Homo sapiens: one gene and its partners. The protein of the gene in region 7 purifies or fractionates together with the protein of the main gene of each other region. This does not show direct contact. Each region holds a gene or a part of one and is shown on either strand. Other genes may lie near its edges.

Evidence for each region.
Region 1: the proteins of LACTB2 (region 7) and RAB11FIP5 fractionate together in Homo sapiens (co-fractionation; one large-scale study listed by BioGRID). This does not show direct contact.
Region 2: the proteins of LACTB2 (region 7) and SSU72 fractionate together in Homo sapiens (co-fractionation; one large-scale study listed by BioGRID). This does not show direct contact.
Region 3: the proteins of LACTB2 (region 7) and PPIL1 fractionate together in Homo sapiens (co-fractionation; one large-scale study listed by BioGRID). This does not show direct contact.
Region 4: the proteins of LACTB2 (region 7) and MSRB2 fractionate together in Homo sapiens (co-fractionation; one large-scale study listed by BioGRID). This does not show direct contact.
Region 5: the proteins of LACTB2 (region 7) and PALM2AKAP2 fractionate together in Homo sapiens (co-fractionation; one large-scale study listed by BioGRID). This does not show direct contact.
Region 6: the proteins of LACTB2 (region 7) and C1orf198 fractionate together in Homo sapiens (co-fractionation; one large-scale study listed by BioGRID). This does not show direct contact.

The regions. Positions count from the first base shown.
Region 1 is NC_000002.12:73,106,449-73,109,948, reverse strand, and holds part of RAB11FIP5 (rab11 family-interacting protein 5), read left to right. Parts: intron 1-3,500. UniProt on the Homo sapiens protein: Rab effector involved in protein trafficking from apical recycling endosomes to the apical plasma membrane. Involved in insulin granule exocytosis. May regulate V-ATPase intracellular transport in response to extracellular acidosis.
Region 2 is NC_000001.11:1,572,064-1,576,257, reverse strand, and holds the start of SSU72 (RNA polymerase II subunit A C-terminal domain phosphatase SSU72), read left to right. Parts: upstream 1-1,394; 5' UTR 1,395-1,700; coding exon 1,701-1,780; intron 1,781-4,194. UniProt on the Homo sapiens protein: Protein phosphatase that catalyzes the dephosphorylation of the C-terminal domain of RNA polymerase II. Plays a role in RNA processing and termination. Plays a role in pre-mRNA polyadenylation via its interaction with SYMPK.
Region 3 is NC_000006.12:36,868,304-36,871,803, forward strand, and holds part of PPIL1 (peptidyl-prolyl cis-trans isomerase-like 1), read right to left. Parts: coding exon 3,415-3,500; intron 1-3,414. UniProt on the Homo sapiens protein: Involved in pre-mRNA splicing as component of the spliceosome. PPIases accelerate the folding of proteins. Catalyzes the cis-trans isomerization of proline imidic peptide bonds in oligopeptides. Catalyzes prolyl peptide bond isomerization in CDC40/PRP17.
Region 4 is NC_000010.11:23,109,079-23,112,578, forward strand, and holds part of MSRB2 (methionine-R-sulfoxide reductase B2, mitochondrial precursor), read left to right. Parts: intron 1-1,163; coding exon 1,164-1,240; intron 1,241-3,500. UniProt on the Homo sapiens protein: Methionine-sulfoxide reductase that specifically reduces methionine (R)-sulfoxide back to methionine.
Region 5 is NC_000009.12:110,157,698-110,161,197, forward strand, and holds part of PALM2AKAP2 (PALM2-AKAP2 protein isoform 3 (PALM2-AKAP2)), read left to right. Parts: intron 1-3,500. UniProt on the Homo sapiens protein: Binds to regulatory subunit (RII) of protein kinase A. May be involved in establishing polarity in signaling systems or in integrating PKA-RII isoforms with downstream effectors to capture, amplify and focus diffuse, trans-cellular signals carried by cAMP.
Region 6 is NC_000001.11:230,865,722-230,869,802, reverse strand, and holds the start of C1orf198 (uncharacterized protein C1orf198), read left to right. Parts: upstream 1-1,281; 5' UTR 1,282-1,290; coding exon 1,291-1,623; exon of another isoform or gene 1,624-1,999; coding exon of another isoform or gene 2,000-2,005; intron 2,006-4,081.
Region 7 is NC_000008.11:70,662,686-70,666,185, reverse strand, and holds part of LACTB2 (endoribonuclease LACTB2), read left to right. Parts: intron 1-2,906; exon of another isoform or gene 2,907-3,500.

The DNA of each region.
Region 1 (3,500 bases), on a different chromosome or scaffold from region 7:
GGGATGAAATGAAAATGCAGCTTAAGCACCTAGTACAGTCCCTGTACATGGTAGGTGGTCAGTGCAGAGCAGTGATGGTGAAGGGAGATTTTAGTAACAATGTCTGGAAGAGCTTCTTATGGGATGGGGGAGACAGTCTAGAACTTAGAGCCTAGGAAAGCCTTAGGACCATGGGTGACGGAGTACACAGAAGAGTACGAGAGTTCCCAACAAAATGAGCTGGCCCTTTGCAGCTCTCTGTATTCTATTTGCTGCAAGAGGCCCAAGAAATAGGGCTGGGCTTGAGAGGCCTCTGCAGTCCTGAAACCAGGCTCAGATAAGCCCGCAGCTCTGCAGCTCTCCTCCCTGGCAGCCCTGCCTGGAGCTGCCCCTGCCCTGTTGGGAAGGAAGGATGGCCCAGGGCTTAAAAACCTGGAGACTGGGATTTCACTCCCCGTTCTGTGACTTACCAGCAGACAGGTTACTTATCCCACTTCCTCACTTTGAAAAAGGTCATGATAATAATCATAGAGTTGTACAGATTAGATAAGACACCATCTGTAAAAGCCTTAATGTAGTTCTGGATACATAGAAGCTCTCAAAATATTAGCGTGGTGGTGACTCTGGGGCCCCATTTTGTGTGATGGTGGTGGCTGGGGTTGTAGGTGCTTCAGCAGCCTCCGAAGGTCTTGTGTGAGTGGGGCAGTCTTTGAAATGAGGAATTTCACCAGAGGCTTCCAAATAATTGAAGAGGATATTCTCAAAACAAAATGTAATGGTAGTACACAAGGAAACTAATGATCTCCCCACCCTCAGTAGAACTGTCCATGGATCGTCATGTTCCTGTTGGTCTGGAAATCCTGGATGCTTCTCTGCGATTTATTTTCTGGTTTTTATCTTCAACATCCTTTTTTTTTTCTTTTTTGAGACAGTGTCTCACTCTGTTGCCCAAGTTGGAGTGCAGTGGCAGAATCTGGGCTCACTTGCAATCTCTCCCTCCCAGGTTCAAGCGATTCTCCTGCCTCAGTCCCCTGAGTAGCTGGGATTACAGGCATGTGCCACCACACCCAGCTAATTTTTGTATTTTTAGTAGAGACTGGGTTTTGCCATGTTGGCCAGGCTGTTCTCAAACTCCTGACCTCAGGTGATCCACCTGTCTTGGCCTCCCAAAGTGCTGGGATTACAGGCATGAGCCACCACGCCTGGCCCAACGTCCTTCTTAGCACTCCCCAGTGGGTGTCCTGTGTTTGCCTCCCTAACTCCCAAGACAGGGATGGGATGTGGTGGTTAGTTAGTTTTCCTTGTTCCCTGTGGGGTCAGATGGGTCATTTGGACCTTTTTGGTCTTTATGCGATTGGTGTGGATCACACCCCCAGGGAATGGACCTGGATATATCAGAAGAGGGAAGGAAGGAAGCAGCAGCAAAGGTTTTGGAGTAAGAAGACAGGGCATCTGCCACAAGGCCATTTTGGTTGGGGAGACCTGGTCTTTGCCCCCTGGAATGCTGGTCTTTGTGTGTTTTAGGAGAGGAGGAGAGAGCACAACTGTGTTATATGGAGCCCCTGTCCACCTTCTCCCTCATCCTGATAAGGGTGAAATGGTCCCTGCGGTAAGGCCTGGAGTGTGGCAGACAGGATCGTCATCCTGGGCCTGTTGGATCAATGGTTAGAAGCTGGCCTCTTGGGAAAGCAAAGGCTGTGGGTTCAGCTTGGGTTGGGATCAGTTTGTCTTTTTTCATCACAAAGACTAAAACTGTTGTGACCATGAATTGTGGCCTGCAAGAGGCTCCGTTCAGCCCCTGCTTAGACTGTGCCACTTGGCAAGGGAGCTCGGAGAGCTGAGGCTGTGAAAGATGTAGGTCTGAGATGAGAGCCTTCTGCCTGGCTGGTCATGGTGTTCTGAGACCTCCTTAGGTGGGTGGGTTTGGGGGCACTGGGAGGCACCTGAGGGGACATGCATCCCATTAGCCTAAGGCTGGGATGGTCTTTGAGGGCTTCCATCTATCCCGTAGCCCACAGACAGCCTGGGCAGACAGTTGGTGGGCAGATGGTGCGTGACCCCACAGCCTTCTCTCTGTTGGCTTCTGGGTGTGACTCTGCCCCTCGGGAAACAGCTGTGGTCACTTGAGCCCCTGGCCTTGGCTCCTGCTCGGCCCCAGAGCTGGCATGGGAGGCCTGTGGCACTGCTGGGGAGGTCTACTCTGGCTGCAGAGGAAGGGTGTGGCTGCACTCAGAAGCCAGTCGTTGGTATGCCGAGGCTCCACGGCCCTTAGTTATGGGGTGGTTTTTATTTGGGGTTGCTTGAGCAGCAGCGTCTTGGGGTGTGGGGCGGGGTAGGAAGTGTGACTCCTCAGTCAGGCTGGGCAGCTCCTCCTCTCTGGCCTGGCAGCTTCCCCTGCCCTCCCCATCTGCCCCTGGCCCTGAGCCCTGGCTGGGACCAGGGAGTTTCAAGGGGCCTGTGGTCAGCCCCATCTCTGCCCCACCTGTCTCTCCTTGTAGGCAGCTGGCTGCAAGGCACAGCTCAGCAGAGCCACATCCCGGTGACCTTGAGGGCTGTCCTTCTCTGCTGGGAGCTGCCCGCCCCACTTGTCACTGCTGCCACCTCAGTGCTGTGACGCTCTTGTCTAAACCACTGGCCTGGCCTTGTCCAGATGTTCTCCTGCCCTTCTCACCCTACGCAGGGACAGATGATGAATACAAGAACAGAAGCTGTTGTGGCTCTGCTCCAGGGGAAGCAGTCCTCTTTTTCTTTCCTTTGCAAAATAGTGTAGCCATGAAGCAGTTTTGTTCTTCCCCACAGCCAAGTAATAAAAATGAGTCCACATGTGAGTCTGCTGTGCACCTGGCAGTCCCTTCAGGGAAGAGTCTGATCACAGTGCCCTTACTGAGCTGGCCTGAGGTTATTTCTACCTTGGGAACAATGGTGGCCAGAGAGGAGAGGGACTTGGCTGGCCACATGAGGCCTCTGTATGGAGCTGGGCCCCGGCCTCTCAGGAGCAGTAAGTGGGGCCTCCCAAAACGGGGCTCCCAGGGGCAGCCAGCACCTCCGAGAAGCTGCAGGGTGGGGAGGGGGTATCACAGGCCACTGTGACCTTTGGTTCACCTGGTAGTGGAGAAGGGAGCACAGCCCTTACTCATGGGACTCCAGCATGGGAGCTGGAAGAGAGCTCAGACAAGGAAACTGGGGTTTGCAGAGGGAGAGCTGCACACTCTCACTACCCAGCACTTAGTGGAGGGTGTGCTCTGTGTGGTTTCCATTAGACCCGGGCAGCCCACAGAGCTGTAGGATTTGGGGTAAAGAAGAGGTGGCATTTGGAGCCCTGTGTGCACCCCGGAGTTTCTGTGGAAGTGCCTGCCAGGTTTTAGTGAGATGGGGACATTGGGCTTCTCTGCTGACCTGGAAGGGTAGTCCAATCCAAAGGCAGTTCTAGAGGCCTGAAAGGCCAAGAGTGGGCCACTGGTGGGGGAGAGATTCCAAAGGGGGGGAAGCCTGGATATCTCCCTACATTTGGAGGAAGCCCT
Region 2 (4,194 bases), on a different chromosome or scaffold from region 7:
ATCTCAATCAAAAGGGGAAAATACCCAAGTTGTCAAATAAAAGTGGACTCACTTATGTTTAAAAAATACCTTGACAAAGACAGCTGGGAAAGGCCATGGAGAATTCTCATGAATCAATAATAAGAAAAACTATCACAAGATTCTGCAAAAACCACAACCTTGCACTAAGGCAATCTTACACAAAAAATACTTCAGCAAGGACAGCTGCCCAGCAACTGCCTGTCCAACCCTGGAACGGGAGTACACTTGTTTTTTTTTTTTTTTAGACGGAGTCTGGCTCTGTCGCCCAGGCTGGAGGGCAGTGGCGCGATCTCGGCTCACTACAAGCTCCGCCTCCCGGGTTCACGCCATTCTCCTGCCTCAGCCTCCCGAGTAGCTGGGACTACAGGCGCCCGCCACCACGCCCGGCTAATTTTTTGTATTTTTAGTAGAGACGGGGTTTCACCGGGTTAGGCAGGACGGTCTGGATCTCCCGACCTCGTGATCCGCCCGCCTCGGCCTCCCAAAGTGCTGGGATTACAGGCGTGAGCCACCGCGCCCGGCCGGGAGTACACTTGTTACTGTTCTTTGTAGCCAAGGTTAATTATTTCCAAACCATTATCTTCCTCTTCATTTTTTCTTTAAAAACCATTACTTTCCTGAATGCGCAAATCGTTTACTATGGCACGCATATTCGCCAACGCCCTATTCCCAAATAAATATCATTTTCAGTTAGCCTGTTATTAGGTTGACAATCATTATCACTCCCTCTCCCGTCCGTGGCGCTCCCACGGCAAAACATCAGCCCACTGTCCACCGCGAGGCTGCATCCAGGCAGACAGGCATAGCTGGGGAATGACACACTCGCGTTGACTGGATTTACTGTAACTGGACCCAAATCTCAGACCAGCCGGCGGCCTCTCCAAGGAAGCCCGAGGCGAGGAAGATCCTAGTCGACGTGCACTCCCAACCAGGTCTGTCACAGGTCGGCCCTCGCATTTAAACGTTAAATGTTGAAGGGCTTTCATAAAAGAGCGATGTGCTCCTGCTTGTATGAGCCGGGGCCGGAGGCCGGTAACAGCGGCACGGGACGGGAGCGAGCCTCAGAATGCGGGAATGTCTGTGGGCCTCCGGGACAGTGGAGGGAGCGGGTCTAGTGAAGCGCGACGACTCTGGGGTGGCAGAAGTGAGGACTATGGGCCCCACGGGGACCGAGGGAACGCACAAAATCGTCCCAAGAGACGAAACGCCGGGCCGCGGAAGGGCCCTCAATGCTATCTCCGGCAAGCGCGGCGTTTCGCATCGCTCCCAAAGGCGGCGGCGACACCTTATGACGTCCTGTTGTTCCGCACGTCGTCGCGTCACACTAGGCGCCGGCGCGGGGTGCTGATGTCAGGACGCCGCCGCTTGGCGCCGTGACGCTCAGCCGGGCCTTGTGGAGTGCGGGTCTCTGCTGCGGACGCCGGGGGCCGGCGCGGCGTTGGCCGCCCCCGGCCTCGCCGAGTGCAGCGCGCCCGAAGGCCAGTGCCTGCGCTCCGTCCGCGGCCCGGCGCCCAGGGTGGGCGGGGAGGCCGCCGCGCAGTCGCCGCACGCTACACCGCCGGCGCCGTCGTTTCGCGTCGCCCGCTTCCGGCCACCGCGGCCGCCATTTTGTTCGCGCGGAAGCGCCGCGGTAGGGTGGGAACCCAAGCGGGAGAGCCGCGGGATTTGCGGCCGCCGCCATGCCGTCGTCCCCGCTGCGGGTGGCGGTGGTGTGCTCGAGCAACCAGAACCGGAGCATGGAGGCGCACAACATCCTCAGGTAGTTGGGCTCCACCCTGTCCCCGCGCGCTCTGCTCCGGCGACCGGCCCTCCCTCCTCCCCGGTTCCCCCTGGCCCGCGCCAGGACCCCTGAGAGGAAGCCGGGCCGGGCCGCGCTCGTGGGTCGGCTGGTTGGGATGGCAGCTGGACGGCAGCGCGCGTAGTCCACACGCGGGTGGGCATCACAGGGAAGGCAGGTTCCGGGACGAGGCGCCCGCTGTCCGGTGGTCCTTCGAGCTCTCCGAGGCCGGGCCCGGGGGGCGAGGGTAGCGTCCGCGGCGAGGGGCTGCGCGGCGGCGGCCGATCATGGTATTTCGTGTGCGTCGTTGGCCACCTTCCCTGGAAACGGCGCGCAACACAATCACGGCATACCACGATGTTGTAAATAACAAAGCGGTCTCTTTTTTTAATGCCATGGATTTGTGTGTTTGCTACTTCTTCTTCTTTTTTTTTTTTTGCGAAAGATCCTCTCTTCCTCCCTGGAACGCCTCCAACCGGTAGTTTCTGGAATACAACGTGGACTTGGTTTGGCTCTGCTAGTTTATATTCCCTGCTAACTGGCCGCCTGTGACTCTTGCGTAGCGTATGTCTAATGAAAGTTTATTCCTGCTTGATAACAAGTTTTTTGTTCAGTCACATAGCAAACTGAGAAACTGACCACTTGACTTACAGTTAAAATTTGGTATGTGTCAACTTTGATAGTAAGAAAGTTGAAATGGCTTTTTTACCTCCAAAGTTACCTACGTGAACTTTAAATGAAAACAGTGTTTCGCTTCTCTTCTCGCAGTCCAGCTATAACTTTCCTGAGCAACTTGGGAAAATTAACAGTCCCCCTTTTTTTTCCGTTTTTAACAGTGTCACGTGGGCCAGGCACGGTGGCTCACGCGTGTAGTCCCCGCACTTTGGGAGGCCGACGCACGCGGATCACCTGAAGTCAGGAGTTGGAGACCAAAAAACACCCCCCAAAAATCAGTGTCAAGTGTTCATGATCTGCTGATTCTTTCTCTTTATTCTTTTCTTTCTTTTTTTTTTTTTTTTTTTTTTTTTTTGAGACAGAGTCTTGCTCTGTCGCCCAAACTGGAGTGCAGTAGCGCGATCTCGGCTCACTGCAACTTGTGCCTCCCGAGATCGAGCTATTCTCCTGCCTCAGCCTCCCGAGTAGCTGGGACTACAGGCACCGGCCACCAGGCACGGCTAATTTTTTTTTTTTTTTGTATTTTTAGTAGAGACGGAGTTTCATCATCTTAGCCAGGATGGTCTTGATCTTATGACCTCGTGATCTGCCCGCTCGGCCTCCCAAAGTGCTGGGATTACAGGCGTGAGCCACTGCGCCCGGCTTTTTTTGTATTTTTAGTAGAGACGGAGCTTCACCATGCTGGCCAGGCTAATCTCAAACTCCTGACCTCAGGTGATCTGCCCGCCTCGGCCTCCCAAAGTGCTGGGATTACAGGCGTCAGCCACCGCATCCGGCCAAAGGTTGTTTTTAAAACTAGAAATGTGCTAGAATTACATTGTGCTGGATCTTCATTTATAAACTGCAGTTACCTGTAAAAATTTGATACATTTAAGCAAAACAATGCAAGGCTCACCCCCCCCCCCCCAAGACAAAATTATTGTTAATTGGAATAACAAATGGGCTGGAGACCTTCTGGTTCTGCTGGTTCTCCTTGGTGATCCTTTGTTCAAGATTTTCTGCTGTACCTGCATAACAAAGATGGAGTAGGCCGGGCGCAGTGGCTCACACCTGTAATCCTAGCACCTTGGGAGGCCGAGATGGGCGGATCACAAAGTCAGGAGATTGAGACTATCCTGGCTAACACGATGAAACCCCGTCTCTACTGAAAATACAAAAAAATTAGCCGGGCGTGGTGGCGGGCGCCTGCAGTCCCAGTTACTCGGGAGGCTGAGGCAGGAGAATGGCATGAACCCAGGAGGCGGAGCTTGCATTGAGCCGAGATCATGCCACTGCACTCCAGCCTGGGCGACAGAGCAAGACTCCATCTCAAATAAATACATAAATAAAATAAAGTTGGAGTAGAATATATATTTTTTTTCTTGAGGGGGAGTCTGTAGCCCAGGCTGGAGTGCAGTGGTGCTATCTCAGCTCACTGCAAGCTCCGCCTCCTGGGTTCACACTATTCTCCTGCCTCAGCCTCCTGAGTAGCTGGGACTACAGGCGCCCGCCACCACGCCCGGCTAATTTTTTTGTATTTTTAGTAGAGACGGGGTTTCACCATGTTAGCCAGGATGGTCTCGATCTCCTGACCTCGTGATCCGCCTGCGTGGGCCTCCCAAAGTGCTGGGATTATAGGCGTGAGCTACTGCGCCTGGCAAGATGGAGTAGAAATCTTAACAAAAGGAAATGTTTTAAAAATTCTATTTAGGGCTGGGCGCGGTGGCTCACGCCTGTAATCC
Region 3 (3,500 bases), on a different chromosome or scaffold from region 7:
AAAGGTCTGAGATTATTTTAGTGAATGCAGGGAAAAAAGAAAAAAAAATCCTATCACACAATCAAAAGAAATATGATAGATATGGAAGGCAAAGGTGATGAAACAAATAACTATATTTCCTGAAATAGAAAATCCAGTAAGTATAACAGAGAAAATATTCAGAAATAGAAATCAAAAAATTAACCCTGATGTAAAGGAAGGAGTAAATCTGGCCTCAGTATTCTCCAAAACCATATTCAAAAATGAGAAGGCAGCCAGGCATGATGGCTCATGCCTGTAATCCCAACATTTTGGAAGGCCGAGGCAGGAGGATCACTTAGGCCCAGGAGTTTGAGACCGGCCTCAGCAACAGTGAGACCTCAACTCTATAAAAAATTTAAAAATTAGTGAGGCATGCTGGTGAATGCCTGTAGTCTCAGCTACTCGGGAGGCTGAGGTAGGAGAAATGCTTGAGCCCAGGGGATGGAGATTGCAGTGAGCCATGATTGTATCACTGTACTCGAGCCTGGGCCTAGGTGACAGAGCAAGATCCTGTCTCCAAAAACAACAACAACAACAACAAAAACAAACAACAACAAAAAACCAAACCAGAAGGCAATTGATCAGAAATGTCTAAAAAGATCTCAGAATGCTATACCCAGTTATGGTCTTTTTTTCTTCCTTTTAAATATTTTTATTTTATTTTAATTTATTTATTTAGAGATAGTGTCTCACTGTGTCGCTCAGGCTGGAGTGCAGTGGGCACAATCATGGCTCACTGCAGTCTCAACCTCCCAGGTTCAAGTGATCCTCCTACCTCAGCCTCCCAGTAGCTGGGATTACAGGCATATGCGACCATGCCCAGCTAATTTTTTATTTTTTGTAGAGACGGGGTCTCACTATGTCGCCCAGGCTGGTCTTGAACTCCTGAACTCAAGTGACCCTCCCGCCTCAGCCTCCAAAGTGCTAGGCTTACAGGTGTGAGCCACCATGCCTGGCCTAAAAAATTTATTTTAAAAAAGTAATTTATCTCTTACAGTTGTGGAGGCTGAGAAGTCCAAGGTCAAGTGGCCACATTTGGTGAGAGCCTTCTTGCTGGTGGGGACTCTGTGAAGTCCCAAAGTGGCACAGTGCATCACACAGTGAGGGGGCTGAGCATGCCAACATGCTATCTCTTTTCAAGTATAAAAGTAACAGGCAGAAATTCTGAAACATGAATGAACTTAAAAATACAACACATTCCAGCTCTTGTAACAAAAAACCACTGGACAATTGTGATTCTTGAGCATTCTGAAAAAAAAACACTAAAAAACCACTAGACAAGAAATCCTGCCCTCCAGCACTTGCGAAGGTAAAAGCGAAGCAAGTTGTGAACACTAAATACACTGAAACGTAGGACCCACACTGTAGCTGAAGGAATGATGAGTGCAGAACAGATAATAATAAAACTAACAACAAAAATTAAGGTCGGGGAAAAATAAGAATGGGTAGAAATTTAAGTACTAATTGCCTCATCTTTCACTGTAGGAAGTCAAATATTCTGTTCTATATATATGAAATTAAATGTAATATGTTCTGTTTTAAAAACAATAGCTTATATATCCTATTTTTTTGAAACTACTTCCATTTATCCTGTCATCCCTTAAACCAGACATGATGGGCACCAAAAGTTAACACTGTTCCTTTCTGAAAGATGGGATATTTAGGGATTAGTTAATGATGGTTAGAAATCTTTAGGAGCTATGCTTATGAATGATTTTTCCCCTTTTCTCTGCTTTCTTATATATTCTGTATTTTGAAATGCATCCATATACATTAAAAAAAAAAAAACCCAAAAACCTGAATGCTTCTGACCATAGATGATAAATCATGAGACGATTAAGAATGACAAAAAAGAACAAGACTGAGAAAAGACTCTGCTATAGAGAAAACCAAACTTGTTTAAAGGCAAACGAGCAGAAATTAGCAGAGAAGAAGCAGACTGAGAAGCAAGGGCCCTTGAAATGAGTAAGGGTTCCACCAGTTCACTAATAAACCCCATCTAAATGCCAGTAACTCCCAAATTAATACCTCCATACCAGGTCTTTCCCTGAACCCCATATTCCTATCCAACTACTTACTCATGAGCATAGTCGGCCCTCCCTACATGTGGGTTCTACATTCATGGGTTCAACTAACCGCGACTGAAAACATCTTGGGGGGAAGCATCTGTACTGAACATGTATAGAACTATTTTTCTTGTCATTACTCCCCAAACAATACAGTACAACAACTATTTACATAGTGTTTACATCTTGCCCCTACATCTATTCTCTAAACAGCAGCTAGAGTGATCCTTTTATTTATTTATTTATTTGAGAGGGAGTCTCAATCTGTTACCCAGGCTGGACTGCAGTGGTGCGATCTTGGCTCACTGCAACCTCCATCTCCTGGGTTCAAGCAATTCTTCTGCCTCAGCCTCCCGACTAAGAACCTGAGATTACAGGTGCCCACCAACCCGCCCGGCTAATTTTTGTATTTTAGTAGACAGAGCGTTTCACCATGTTGGTCAGGCTGGTCTTGAACTCCTGACCTCAAATGATCCAACTGCCTCGGGCTCCCAAAGTGCTGGGATTACAGGCGTGAGCCACCGTGCCCAGCCTAGAGTGATCCTTTTAAAGCATAGATCAGATCATGTCTTTCCTTTGCTCAAAACTCTCCAATGACTCACATCACATCTTACTCAGAATAAAACCCAGTCTCTACCATGCCCTATAAGGTATCATATCTTATGATTTCCAGCACAGGTTCCTGCCTCAGGGCCTCTGTGTTTGCTCTTCCCTCCATCCAAAATGTTCTCCCCACAGTTGCAAGGTTCACTTTCTTACTTCATTCAGATCTCTTCTCCAATAATGTCAGAGAGGAGTTCCCTGACTTTTCTACTAAAATTCCATCCCCACACCCTTTTCCTGCTTTATTGAGAGCAATAATTCTGTCTCTTTGTTTATAGGTATCTCCCTAGAGCTTAAAAAAGTATCTGACACAAAACAGGTACTCAGTATTTGTTAAATGAATGAATCGATAAAAGAACCCAGGATTTTATTATTCTCAAAATATTATAAAGTCTTTCCTTCTTATTGATCAGACTACTTGCATCACTATAATTCAGACAAATATTATTTGTTCTTAGTGAGCAGTACATGTAAGTTATGAAAAACTCTACCAAGCCTAGGAGTAAAGGTTGGTTTCTGGTCAATTCCACACATGTGTGTTTGAGGAAGGCAGGCGTTGTCACCAGAATCAACCAACACAGACCTTAGTAAGTGGAAAAGAGAGCTCTGGCTGCCTTATCACCTATTTACGACAGAGACTTCAGAAACTAATGCTGGCTTTAGAAAAAAAGACGAAAAGGAGAAAAAAAAAAGAAAACATAAACTAATGTTGGCTTAACTGTACCTGTCCCTGTTGGGTCACCTCCTTGGATCATGAAGTCTTTGATAATTCTGTGGAATTTTGTGCCATTGTAGTAACCTCGACGAGCC
Region 4 (3,500 bases), on a different chromosome or scaffold from region 7:
TCACTTGGTGAGCTGTTCTGTGCTCTGGCTTTCCTCTGGCCCATAGGAGGGGACAGTGCCTGCCGCCAGGCCCTGTGATAGCGGATCTTCATGGTCAGCTTGTGCAAGGGTTGTTTTTTATTTAATTTTCTTTGACAGGGGAGATGACAAAAGAAATTGGGCAAAAATGGTCTTTAAAAAAAAGTCATCAGCCGGGTGCAGTGGCTCATGCCTGTAGTCCCAGCATTTTGAGAGGCCAAGACATGCAGATCACTTGAGGTCAGGAGTTCGAGACCAGCCTGGCTAACACGGTGAAACCCCGTAAAAGTACAAAAATTAGCCAGGCGTGGTGGCGTGCACCTGTAGTCCCAGCTATTCGGGAGGCTGAGACAGGAGAATCACTTGAACCTGGGAGGCAGAGGTTGCAGTGAGCTGAGATCGTGTCATTGCACTCCAGCCTGGGTGACAGTGAGACTTCATCTCAAAAAAAAAAAAAAAATCAAGTTTGAGAAATAACATTTTAAAAAATATTGACTTGGCTAATTCATTGACTTGTCTCCTTGTTCTCCTCTCAGAATACCTCTGAAAACTTGCAAACCCTGTAACCCACAATGAACGCAGTAATTTCATCTAAGTAGTAACCTGGGCACTGAGGGGGTGGGGAATCTAGCTCATTATTTAACATTTATTAAGTATGCTGTGTCCTAAACATTATGTGAAGCATATTAAAGGCAAAATGCCTGATCTCACTGAACTATGCTTTTTATGTATTTATATTCTGTCTTTAATTGGAGATTTCAAAGTATGTTAGACAGTGGACTAGATTCCTGTTGTATTAACTCTTTTAAAAGGGAGACCGAAATCTCACACAGTCACAGAGGACAAGACTCTGTTTTCTTGCTTTTTCACCGACTTTGATGCTCTTGGATGAAAAGTCCTGTATGAATACAAAGATTATCAAAGTCATAATTTGAATATTGGGTGCAATAAAGCCCAGGCTGTAAATACATCTGCAGGCTGCTTCATTGGGTACATTATAATTTTCTCTCTGGCGTTATTTGCACTTCGTCAAATTAGTACAGAAATTCCTTGATTTGGGGACTTACCCAGGATTTAAATCTGCTGTTTCAACTCCTGCCAGTAGTATGAGAAATCTGAACATGACATATCTAATTTACTTTCAGCCTTTCAGTGGGATCTACCTGAATAACAAGGAAGCAGGAATGTATCATTGCGTGTGCTGCGACAGTCCACTCTTCAGGTAAGATAAAGAATTGAGAGCCACGGAAGGAGACCAAACCTCCAGGTTCTTACTGCTTTGTTTCATTTGAGATCTTGGATAAATAAATACCCATAATACCCATTTTGTTTTTTAAATTGCTCTTCTCATTTTGCATTGTTGCTGTAAGGAGAGCTATTCATATAAGATACTTGCCTGTCTTGACTTTTTTTTCTAGCATTTAGAGCCATTAACAAGACTTCTTAGCTTATATTCTTCCTTTCTCTATCCTCAAGAAATAGCAAGGAAATAAAACTCAGTGGGCCCCTTATGATAAAGCTATTAGAGTTTTTTTTTTTTTAGAGGGAAAGTATTTAAAGAAATCTAAACCGTGATTATATTTGCTGGGCCATGTGATTAAAACTCTCTCCCAGGGAAAATGGGTTTATAATTTAATTTAGGAAATGTAGAATTTTATGAGGATAGATTCCCCACAATGCTTGACAGTAGCGAATACCATACCCTCTTCTATATAGCTAAAAGTAAACTTATTTGTCCCTTGATTTCAAAGCCTCTTTTAAGTCAATCAGGATCTGAAATCTCTCAACAAAGGCTTTTTTGTTTAGACATGCAGGAAACAGTCTTAAAAAAAAGTAGATTCGATGGAGAAGAAAGGAAAACATCTTTGAAGTCCTATTTTTCAGAACTTCAAAGATGTTTTCCTTTCTTTTGCATCAACCCTAAATTGGTTTAGAATAAAATATAAATCAAGCCAGCTCTGTGCATTGCCCATTAGGCAGTGCTTCCTTCTGTCCTCTGGGCTTTGAGCAGTCTGGGCCTTCCTGCCCGGCTGGCTGCTAATGTGGGCTGCCTTAGGAAGCCGGACCCGCCTGCAAGGATGAGGAGCGATTAGCATCGATTTTCCTCCGTGCTCACAGATGGGCAGGCCTTTGCCCGGATGCATTCACGTTGGCATGGGGGAAACTAGAAGGAGGTTAATTTTTGCACAGTAAAATGTGGGACTCAGGTTTCTGAGACAATAGTTATTTCTTGACCTTTGGTTGTGTTAAAGAGGAGAGGTAGGATTTTGAGATGGCCCATGAGCTTTCAGCCATAGAACCATGCTGCCAGCGTGTCAAGGGCTCCCTTGTTACCGCAGGCACCAGGCAGTGCTCTGTCTCCCTCTTTGCACTGTGAATACAGAAGATAAATCATCCTCGCAAGAGCATTCTCTTAAATCACAGTCTTCACTCTTCCCCTTCCTTGATGTTCCGGTTTCTGCATCTGAAAAAGGGGGGGACTTCTTCCCTTCCTTTCACCTTGCAGGCTTAGTTGTGGTGTCAGAATACTGGAGCCAGGAGGGTCCTGAGTCCAGAGCAGAAAGCTCTGTCCAGTAGAACTTCCTGTGGTGATGGAGATGTCTGTATCTGGCCATGTGGTAGCTGCTCATCACATAAGCTTGTTAAGCACTCAAGGTGTGGCTAGCATGGCTGAGAAGCTGACTTTTTCAATTTAATTTTAATTAATTTAAACTTAAATTTAATTTTAATTAATTTAAACTTAAATTTAATTTTAATTAATTTAAACTTAAATTTAATTTTAATTAATTTAAACTTAAATTTAATTTTAATTAATTTAAACTTTAATTTTAATTAATTTAAACTTAAATGTAATTTTAATTAATTTAAACTTAAAAGGCCACATGTGGCCAGAGGCTACTATATTAGCACAATGCTAGTTCAAATTAAGGAAGTTAAGTGACCAACTCCAGGTCCTGGAGGTTGTGAAGCAGCCAAGACTAATAGGAAAACCAGCCGATTCTCCAAAAGCCCATTGACCAAGTGGCCAGTTTATGAGACTGCCAATTCACTAACTTTATTTGTTTTTGTGTAACCATTTAGTTTGAGCTGAAAAGTTTCCATTTTGCATTCTTAAAGACTTCTGAGTTTGTTTCTCTTCCCCTTTCCTGTTGCTGCTACTGCAGCTGAAGGAAATAATATATTCCTGAAGATTATTTATGTTCCAGAATATACTATTCTTAAAGATGCACTCATTTATGGGAGAGGCAGTAGAATGGTTAAGATTGCCAAGGTGTATATCCTGGCTCCATTGCTGTGTGACCTTGAGCAAATTTCTTAACCTTTCTGTGTCTGATTTCCTCACCTGTAAAATGAAGATAATAGTACCTAATTCATAAGGTTGTTGGGAGGATAATCTGAGTCATGAATTAATACATGGAAAAGCATAGAGCAATGCCTGACATGACTGACTCAGGCCAGGCACTTGATGCAAGTTAGTAATG
Region 5 (3,500 bases), on a different chromosome or scaffold from region 7:
CCTGCCTTTCACTCTTGAAAGTGTCCCAGTTTGGGTGATAAACCATCTGGTCACCTTAAACTTGAATGCTATGAAGTTCACAGTAAGAATTCCCTGCTGTTTTATTGCCTTTTATATCCTAGCTGGCTAAGTTAAAGGATTTCTGGAGTTGAAGCCCAGATGCTGAAAGTTGCTTTCAAAATATATGGCGGTAAAGAAAGGAAGAAAGCAAATGGATATCTGGCAGCCTGGCTTCTCACTTGGCATCTCCCAGGCTTTCCCTTTTGTTTACACCTGAACTGCGTGGAGCACTGGCTCAGCTGCTGTATTAGGCTGCAGCTATTCTACTGGGCTCTTCACTGTATTAGACAGTGGGATGATGCCCGGCCCTGGGTAGCTGCTGCAGACATTTCCACTGCTGAACCTCACTGTAGGGGAGCCAGCAGCTCCTTTCGTGAGCCTGCAGGATTTTTCCCTGGCTACTCAGTCACTTTCACCAGCCCTTCTTTGAAGCCCCACTTCAAAGGATAAAGTTTGCCTTAAGAATTTTCTGAAAGTTAAATCATTTTGAAACTTGGTGCTCTAGGTGTCTGGTTTCTTTTCTCCCAGTGACTCTGCTCTATACATCAGCAGTTTTGGTAGAATTTAGCCAAGTGGGTGCCCCACACTCTGATGTGGATGGGGAAGAACAAGTAGAACCACTTAGCATGTGACCCACGCGAGTGTTTGCTGAACACACTCTACTTGTCACTTGTGTATGTCTTTTGTGTTGGAGTGCAGATGATAGGGAAAAATACTCCATACAGAAGGGTAGAGGCAGTTCTCACTCATTTCGTAAAGGCAGAGGGCTGGAAGCTCTTTTGTGCACACGCTGACACTCTGGCAGCCACCTAACAAATGCCAACCAGGTTGAGTTTTTCCTCTGCATGAATGAAGCTGCTTGGAATCAGCGTTTTAATATGCTGATTGCCCTTCACTTACAAATCAAAGAGGCAGCCTCCTGTCTCTATATTTTCCAGTAAATAAACATTTTGAAAAAGAAAGAGACCTAACTAATTAAGCTGTTAATATCCCTGGATCTTGGATTCAAAGCCAAATGTTTTGCACTGTTATTGCTATTACAACAGAACCAAGTTTGCTGTTGTTGAAAATTCTTAGGATCAGGACAAAATCTACCAATCCACTATATGCTCATTTAAGAGACCCAAATCTAAAACAACAAATTCAGATTGCTTCTAAAGCAAAGATATGATCATCAGTCAGGCTTCAAATGAGAGCCTTCTCCTAGCCCTTCCAATTTAGGGGACCTTTTCTCCTGTATCTGTGTCAATCACTGGTGAATGTGTTGAAGTTTACCTGTAGGGATGAACAAACATTCATTTTTTTCCTAACCAATCTGTGGCCCCTTTTCCATTTTTTCTTTTTCTTTAATACCAGAAGGATAGTAATAGAGAGCAGATGGATTGCTGGGGGGATGAGTTGTGTAACTGGCTTACCTATCCGTAGAAGCATAAAGTTAATTCTCTTAAAGGTAAAGTAATTCTGGTCTCTAGCCTCCATTTACATACACTATTCTCACAGAGAAACATGGCTTCTTAGACTCTCCACCCTCTAAGCACCTCAGTGGCTCACACCTACACACCCAGCATCTCCCCATGTTATGCAGCATCACCCCTGGCACCTCCATTTGCCAATATTTTTTCCAGTAAGCCACTTGGCAGCATTTTGGCATGCCGTTTTGGAGATGATAAACCACACCTGAGAATCAATGCCTGTCGCGTGATTAGAACACAACCATGTGTTTGCCCATCGAAAGTAACAGTTATTTGTGAATTGAGCAAAAATAATTCTTATTTTTTATTCTTTTTAAGGAGAAGGCAGAGTTAAAAACAAGACAGGCGCTGATCATTGGAATGTGTATAAAGTGTGATATGTTAGACACAATGGTATCGAGGAGAGTGAAAGACAGAAGGAGAAAGATAGAATGTAGCTACGGCTGAAGTTTTGCTGAGTGAGAAAAACTGATCTTTGCCATCAAAACAAGTTCAGTGTCCCCCGAGCCCCCATCAGGGGTGTGGTGGCCTCTGGGGTCCTGTCCACAGGGACTCAGCTCAGGGCCCTGCTCTCTCCAGTTTTCCACTTTATAAAAAGTCATATGCAGAGAGGCCCCTGGCTTATGGGAGTCAGGGAGTGGTGTTATCCAAAGGTTGTCCCCAACCAGCCATATTTGTTACTAGCTCAGAACTTGAGCAAAGTACTCCCTTTAGTTGCCACAGTCTTCACCCACCTGGGCTGATTTCTTTGTCCTGTATATTGGAGTCACCAATGAGTATCTCCAGCCTCACTTATTAATGGACCTCTTGGCTAATTCTGAGGGCAGGAGGATTACCATCCCCACCCCTACCCACTTACCCAAGGCTGTTTACCAACCTATGCAAGGCCTTTGTGTGAATTAGGAAAAAAAACCACCCTTGTTCCTCTATGAAGATATGAAGATGCAGCCCTGCACCAGCCACACATTTGGGGGGTAGAGTAGGGGACTGGGCTTTAGTACCATTCATCCCTTTAGTCTGATGCTTTTGTGCAGTGCACACAACACACACCCAGATGCAGCAATCCTATTCATATTGTGGGTTTCTCTTATCTGGAAATGTTCTCTTATGTGGAAATGTCCACTTATCTGGGTCTCATACCATTTCTGCTCAGTCATGCAATTCATAATGGACTAGTGAATCCTAGTTTCCTAAAGGGCTTCTTGATGCCTTGCAAAGCGACTGCCTCCAAGGTGGGGTTGCCCACTCATGGACCTGGAAGACATTTGGATCAGTGGGCACAAATGATGGGCTATTTGGATGTTTTTCCTTCAGGCATGAAGAACCCCTCTAGGAAACTCTGATTCATTAGTCCATCCTGAGTGACATGACTGTATTTAGGCAAACAGTATTTTTCCAGCCAATTGTTTCCCTAACCTGACCTGAGCCTCAGAAAGTGAAGATGATGGGTCATTGAGTCAATGATGCTCATGAACATCTCGAGGGTTTGCTTTGCCTTTCTCAGTTGAAGGGATGCTGACCAGAGTCCAAATCACAGCCTCCTGGATGTTCAGCCCCATCTTTACTTTTAGCGCAGGATCTGCCCTCAGTGGGGTTTTCCAGTGTGCTCTCTCTCTCTTTCTCATCCCATGACTTCATTACTGAGAGGTCATCCAACCACTCTGTCTCATCTTAGAACAAGAGAAGACCTCGTCGGTTTTCCTGGGCTACGTCAAAGCTGAGAGTTCCTGGCACACATTACCCTTCCAGACCAGGACATGCATTGAGAGTTGTGGCCATACTCTCGCTCAGTGTGTGAAGGAAGCCTATCTGCCTCCTGTTTCCCCAGACGCTACAGGAAGCTCAGTGATGCCTTGTGCTTCCCTAACTCTCTCTTACGTTCTCACTCGTACCCTAGTGAAGATGCAAAGGAGAGAGAAGAGCTCCTGACTTGTCAGCTCCCAGCCATTAGCCCAATCATGACAGAAC
Region 6 (4,081 bases), on a different chromosome or scaffold from region 7:
TCATAAATAATCCGCCACTTACTGTGGAGACTATATTTGGTGGTGCTTGCCTTTCCCTGCTTCAATATATTATGTTGTGAACATTGTTGATAATAATGTCTTTAACTGTAGAGCCTGCCACATTCATGACATTCCAAAAATATTCTGAGGATTTCTGGGCCGGAAGATGAGGCCATCTCACATTTAAAATAGGACTTTGCAAGTTATTTCTACTTTTGTGTTCAGAACTATCCAGGCAAAGACCCTGGATAACAGCTGAAATGCTGGTTTTTGTTTTTGTTTTTTTATTTTACGAGTGGACACAATTCTCACCTGAGTCCTGTTAGTCTTGTTAAAATCAGTCAGATGGAGAGAGGGGCTTGGGGGAAGTGGGGGCTCGCTATAATTTTAATTTTGTGGTCTGTCTGGGACACACCTCAAAATTACAAACCCTGGCCCCCTACCTGTTGGGATGTCGCCTCTGAGTCTGAAAACTTTCTGCTCCTCTTTGGTTTGTTTGCAAACGTCGAACTGCCAAGAGTTCTGAGCTCCTTGGGTTGGGGAAAGGCACCTGGGCCACCGGGTACTTCATGCACCCACCTGGCCCCGAGGGGCGGCGGGAGCTGACTTTCCTTGAGCACCAGATGCCCCGAACCGGTCCAGCCTTCCAGGTCGCCCTCCAGCCTCCGGGCTGCCCTGCGCCCCCGGCTATCTGCAGCTCACCGCGCCAGGCCCCGGGCCCAGCGTCCTGGACGGGCCCAGAGAAAGCAGAGAAGGTGTGGCTCGTCCCAGAAAGGGACAGAAGGAAAGGAGTAAAAACAGAAGCCAGGCAGCCAGCGGCTTGGCCTGAAATGCTGGGGCTTTCTTAGGCTCACTGGAGGTTGAAAAAAGTTTCCTTTGTCAAGCAGTGGCCACGTGGCGCTATGGCGGTCACTACCGGGAATTAACCACGGCCACCCTCTCAGAGCGCCGGGCGCGGACTCAGGGACACGCCGGCTACCACCTGAGCCGGGTAAGGGGAGCCCGAAACCTGCGGGCACCGCGGTAATCCACTATGGAGGCGTAAAGGGGGACTCGTGGGGTCCGCGAGGGGGTGGCGGGGGGGGGCCCGGAGGGAGGAGCTCCCGGGGAGGGGGCCACGGAGGGCCGGGGTCCCGGGGCTTGGGGAGCTGGGTTGGCTTGGAGACCCGGGTACGCGGCGGTGCAGGGCGGGGTTCCCGGAGGGGGCGGGGCTCCGGGTGGCGCGGGGCGGGGCGAGGGCGGGCACAGCGAGGGGCGGGGCGCGGGCCGGGAGCGGCGGGCAGGCCGGGCATGGCGTCCATGGCGGCGGCGATCGCGGCTTCGCGCTCGGCGGTCATGAGCGGGAACCGGCCTCTGGACGACCGGGAGCGAAAGCGCTTCACTTACTTCTCGTCGCTGAGCCCCATGGCCAGGAAGATCATGCAGGACAAGGAGAAGATCCGCGAGAAGTACGGGCCCGAGTGGGCGCGGCTGCCGCCCGCGCAGCAGGACGAGATCATCGACCGGTGCCTGGTGGGGCCGCGCGCCCCGGCGCCCCGAGACCCCGGGGACTCGGAGGAGCTCACGCGCTTCCCCGGCTTGCGCGGGCCCACGGGCCAGAAGGTGGTGCGCTTCGGGGACGAGGTAGGTGCGGGCCTGGCCGCGGACCCTCTTCCCCTCCCGGCGCCCCGAGGCGCCCCGGCCCGGTGGGCACCTGCCGGCGTGAGGCCGCCCCAGCTGGTAGGGGCTGGAAAAGAAAAGGCAGGAATGGCAGTGGGTGGGAGGGGAGCCCCAGAGCCGAAGTTCGGGGGGTGGGGGCTCCGCTGGGGGAGTTGGTTAAGAGATCGCCGAGAGGTGGGTCGTTAAAGAACCTCCATCTAGACCTGATCCGCCGGCTCGCACGGACTCCAGAGACTTCTCCCGGAGCTGTCGTAAGCGAGGCTGACCAAAGTGGAAACAACAAGCAATTTTAAACCAGACAAGCCTGGGTTTTAATCCAGCTCTGCTACTTACTACCTGTATGGCGGTGGGTCAATTAACTTCTTAGAGCCTCAGTTTCCACTGTGTAAAACGGGGGTAATAACGCCACCCCGTGCCTGCCCGTGAAGGGACTGAGCAAATGATATATACTAACATGAATACTTGTGATGAGATGTATGGGGAAAGTAAAATTGCCAAGCCAGGTAACAAGGAAGAAAAGGTGTCTTCCAAGATAAGGAGGGAAACCCATCCATCACCCTAAGATGTTTTCCAAGTGAGCACAATGCCCAGCGTATGTTTTAAGGGTGAGCATGGTGGCCCTGTTTTCCACCAAAAAACTAAGGGACGATAAGTTTAAATGAGCTCCAGTAAGTCTTGGCCACATAACAGGGCATGTTTAGGTCTCAGATCTAGACACTGTCCAGACTGCTAGAGGGACAGTCATTTGTGAAGGTAGAAACGCTGAATCTGTTCCAGAAAAAGCTCAGGGATGACCCACACTTAGTCACAAACGCCTGAATCTTCTGTAGGGTTCAGAAACTTGGTCTTCTTTTTCTTAGAAATGTGTTTAACCGAAGCCTGTTTGGTGCCATTAGAATTTGCACTGTGACTCTTTGGCGTTTCAAACTCAACTTTTGCCGTGAGGAGCAAAGTCAAGCTGAGCAAAGAGTGTAGGAATGAAATCGCTCGCTGTTAAGGCTGTTTCTTGGGCTAGAGGAAGGAGAAGCTGGGAGAGATTTTTTCCGAGGAAGTTGTGGATTGTGGATGGAATTCAAGTTAAGGAGGTTTAGATCAGATTTTCAGGCTTGGGTGTGCTGAGACATTTATTAATACGAAGTGTTCATGGTCATAAACCCACTTTAATGTGAGGGAAAAGTGAAATGACTGAAGGATGCTGCCAGTGTTTCTTTATTCTGATGGAATCAAAAGGAAATTCTCTACTGGACTTCAAATTCTGATGGCTTTGCCAGGAAAAACAAGGGTGTGGTAAACTGGGGAGGGGAAAATATAGGTTTTAAAATGTATTCCTAGAGCTGAAACATTTTCAGTGGGAAAATAGGCGTATTTATAAAGACTTGTGTGCAGTGTTTGCGCCCAGATTTGGGGGATGAAAAAGCAGGCAGCACTCCTTTGGAAGAGTCACGAATAAATATGACAGGAAGTAAACTTCTAAGTACTTACAAATGTTGGAGAGTGACTGTCATTTTCCCTTAGCTTGGTGTCCAGCTAAGAATATCTACACGCCTACTCATGATGAAAAAGCCCATGTCATAGAAGAGCCCAGTATTACTGACAAGGAAGAATGTGGCCAAGTTAATTTTTTATTCTCATTCCTCATCTGGTGCCAGACTGAGCCGTTTCTGAATTTGTAAACTCAATGTGATTTAAAAGCAAGTGGAACTGTGCCGTGCTGTGGTGCCTGTATGTCCTTCCAGGAGTAACTCAGGAGAATTGAATCTCAGCTTTGCAAAACCAGCTGAGAGCATGTTCTGAAATGCCTCTGACCAGCCTCAGCTCAGACAGCAGAGGGGCAGATAGACCCTGAATTTTAACAGAGGTACATAGGAACATGGCCCAGGGTACATTTTTGCCTGCAGTGTCTGCGTAGGTTAATAGCAGTAGGGAATTTAAATTCCCCTGGACTGCGCCAGAGGTAGGCACCAAAGTGGAGTCAGTTGTCTCATTGTTGTCCCCAGGAGATCATTCATGGAGGAGGGCCAGCTCCTGGGCACAGGGATGATGGATAAGGACAGGATAGGCTGCTGAACAGAGGTACCCCCAAATAGGTGACCCCAAGTTTGTCCTAAAGGACTGTAAACTAGATAGAGTGGGGCCCAATGTCTCTTCCCACTTGATCAGTCTTCTGATGTGGTCCTGGGGCCTCCACAGCCCTTTCCGCTGCCCTGAAGGACACTGCCTATTTCTTTGAATGGTATCCTCTCCCCCATTGCCAGTAATGTTTTTCTATCTCACATAGCAACGTTTTAAGTCAGAGCATGCAAATACAGCCTCCAAATGTGGTGATCATCTTCTAGACATTTCTTGTGTATTGCAGGAACAAATAGAAATTGATTATATGATGCTGATCACAGATCTTGGTGGTTTTGAATGTGGTCAGGGG
Region 7 (3,500 bases):
CAGCACCTAGCACAGAGCCTTGTACACAGTTCAGGTAGAACAGTAAACAGTTGCTGAATGAATGAGCATTCTGTACATTTTCTCTTAATTTTCACTATTATGACTCCAGAACTGCTGGATAACTACAGTTTTAGCTGGTCTTCCTTCCTCATCTGATCAGCCCATGGAAGCCAAATGAATTTCACTAAAACACTGCTAGACCTAACTGTGATGCTTAGTACATAGGTACTCAATAAGCATTTGAATCAACAAATGACAGCCAAATTGTCCAGTGTTTTTACTTTCCTCCTCTGCTCAAGAACCTTTAAAAACTGCAATTTTAACCTTTCCTATCAAAATTGTACATACTTTGTGGGCAGACAGTGTGGCTGATAATAGAAAAAGGTAGTCAAGTGGAATAGAATTAAAACTCTGGACTCTGGTTACCTCGATTAGAATCCTGGTGCCATTTACTAGCCATATGACTTTGGACAAGACAGTTCTAAGCTTCAGATTCCTGATACAACCCAATGAAGGTTGTGTAGTACCTACCTCATTGGATTTTATAAGGGCTCAGTGAAATTTAAGTGAAAAAACGTATATGAAAAGCACTTAACAAGTTCTAGCACGTGGAAAACATACCATGTTAGCCATTATGTTTATCACTTCTGCTTTCCTCATAACATCTAGATAACACTGTGCTCATAGTAGGTGTTCAGAAAATATCTAATGATTTTATAAGAGTGACAGCAAATAGAGACCAGTTAATAGCTATCTTAATATTGACATGAAATACCTATAACAAGGAATTTGATTCTACTAATTTTCCATCAATTAAAAATTTTTTTCTCCATTCATGTAGCAAACAGTTATTGTGTGCCTACTATGTGCCAGGCACTTTGCTCTAGTGAATAAATCGTTCATAGACCTATACAGATTCATCCATACTCTTCCCTTGAGCCCTTCATTAGCATAATTTGCATTTGCAAAATGACCTCCTGAGATAGGGATATTATTATCTGTGGCCAAGAAGAACAAAGTCAACTAGCCCATGTAGAGATGATACTATCCAATCATCTATTATAACTATTTACAGACATCACTGATAGAGTAACTGTTTGCTAAGGGAGAAACTGATAACATTTTTTTCAATTTCAAAACTGATAACAGTTTTTTCAAATGTATAGCTGAAGTTTTATTTTTGCCACATAATGATTCTAAGCACTTAACCTAAGCAATCCCCTTCTGCTAGAGAGGCAGTGTTTTGAATGGAGAAGTCACTGGACCTTGTATCTGAACATCTAGTGCTTCCTAGCACTGCCTCTTGCTGGTTATATGACCTGGAGCAAATCACTTAGCCTTTCTGAAGATAAGTTTTCTATAAAATAAATAATTAATAAAGTAATAATACCTCCCTAGAGTTGATATGAGGATCAAAAGAAATAGTAAATATGAAAGCCCCAAATGGTTTAAATTGCTATGTCAATGTCATATGTTATCAGTGTGACTTTTTTTTTCCCTCAAAGCTTGGTGCAAACTCATGTTTTAGGTTTTATAGTATCTAGACACCCCTCCTTTGTTCTGAATAGATTGTATTAATTCCAGAACTTTTTTCTGTTTTCTTTCTTTTGAGAGCCCTTCTTTTATCAATTCCAATTTTGTTAAACCAAGACAGGACCATTAAGAGACCTAAAACTGGAGCCCCAGAAACATGTTCTCCACTACCACAGTCGTATGGTCACTCACACTTTCACCTGCAAACAACCAGCACAGGCATTCTAAAAGATCTGTTTTCTTTGCTACTAGATTTTATCAAATTCATGTATCAACCCTGTTAATTTTGTCATGACTTTTGATCAGTGTGATGTGATCTGGTCATTAAATTACAGAAATTTATATTCATTTTTAGATTAGGAGATATTTCAAAACAGAGTTTCTTGGGAGGACGGGAAGGCAAGGATTAAGAAATAATTTTAAAAGTGGTGGGGCCTTGATGGATTGAAAAAATTTGAGCCTTACCTGAAGCATGGAAGTATTCTTTTTGTGAGGACCAGAAGACCCACAAAAATAGTCCCAGTGACTCTACGTTAGGGGCAGTGAGAATTTGTGGTAAATAACTGCAAATGCATGGAGGCAGCCAAAATCTAGGATGGGTGGGCTAGAGAGTATTATTGGAGGTATCATAGTATTATAGTCTTGTGTATTTTAATTTAGCATAACTAAATATGCACAATGCTAAGTGCAGTACAATGTATTATGGATATAGAAATAAATCCATAAATTCCTTGAACCAAACAGACAAGCTTTCTGCCCTGAAGGGACTCAAATTTGTACGGTGGTGTTGGTTGTGGAAATAGGCAATAAAAAAATAAATATGTAAATACATAATATATTACATGGTAATAATTGCTATGGAAAAAAAGCAAGATAAGATGGCTAGGAATAGCATCAGAACTCACTCTGACCCGAGTCAAACTCATCTCAAATTTGCTCCCTCCAGGGTTTACCTTCTTGATTAATGGCACACCAATCCTCCCACCTAGAAACCTCAGAGTCGCCAACTGTTTCCCTCCTTCCACATCTCGTTGTTTAACAAATATCCTGGTGGTTGGTTGATTGTACCTTCTAAATGTTCTTAAAGCCATCTCTTCCTTACATTTCCACTACCAACAGAACCCTATAATAAATGCCCTCTTGGTCCAGTGTAACCATCTGGTCTCCTGTCTCCGGATAGGACAGTTCAACACTGTGTTTCTGAAGGACATCTACTGTGCTACAGAACATAGGGTGCAGATAGAAGCCAATGGGCTATGAGGCCATTACCCTCCTCCCTTATGAGAGGCCAGTTTGTTTTTGTTGGCTCTGGGTCTCAGGGAGTAGGGTTAGGGAAACAAACCAATAAAAAATAACCATCCAGTTACTCACTGTTTAATTTTAATGCTTTGCAAAATGCTTTCTATGGTATGTTACTTTTATTGTTTATTTCCAGTCATATGCAGTTCCCCTTCTCACCAACAGTTGAATGTAAGCAGGGTTGTTGTGTCCTGCTTACTGCAAGAAACAAATTTGTAGCACATATTAGGTAATCCATAAACAGTTATTGATCAATTAATGAATAACTCAGACTTTTCATCAAGGCTAATCTGTCAGCCAGCCTGAATTATTGAGGTGTTACTGTGAAACAGTATGAGTGAAGAAGTTTGTGAATTGGATCTTGAGCTGGGCATGGTGGCTCAACGCCTGTAATCCCAGCACTTTGGGAGGCTGAGGTGGGAGGATTGCTTGACCCCAGGAGTTAAGAGACCAGCCTGGGCAATATGACGAAACACCATCTCTACAAAAAATACAAAAATGAGCCGGGCATGGTGGCACATACCTGTAGTCCCAGCTACTCAGGAAGTAGATGTGGGAGAATCGCTTGTGCCCAGGAGGTCAAGGCTGCAATGAGCTGAGATCGCAACACTGCACTCCAGCCTGGGTGACAGAGCAAGACCCTGTCTCAAAAAAAAAAGAATTGGATC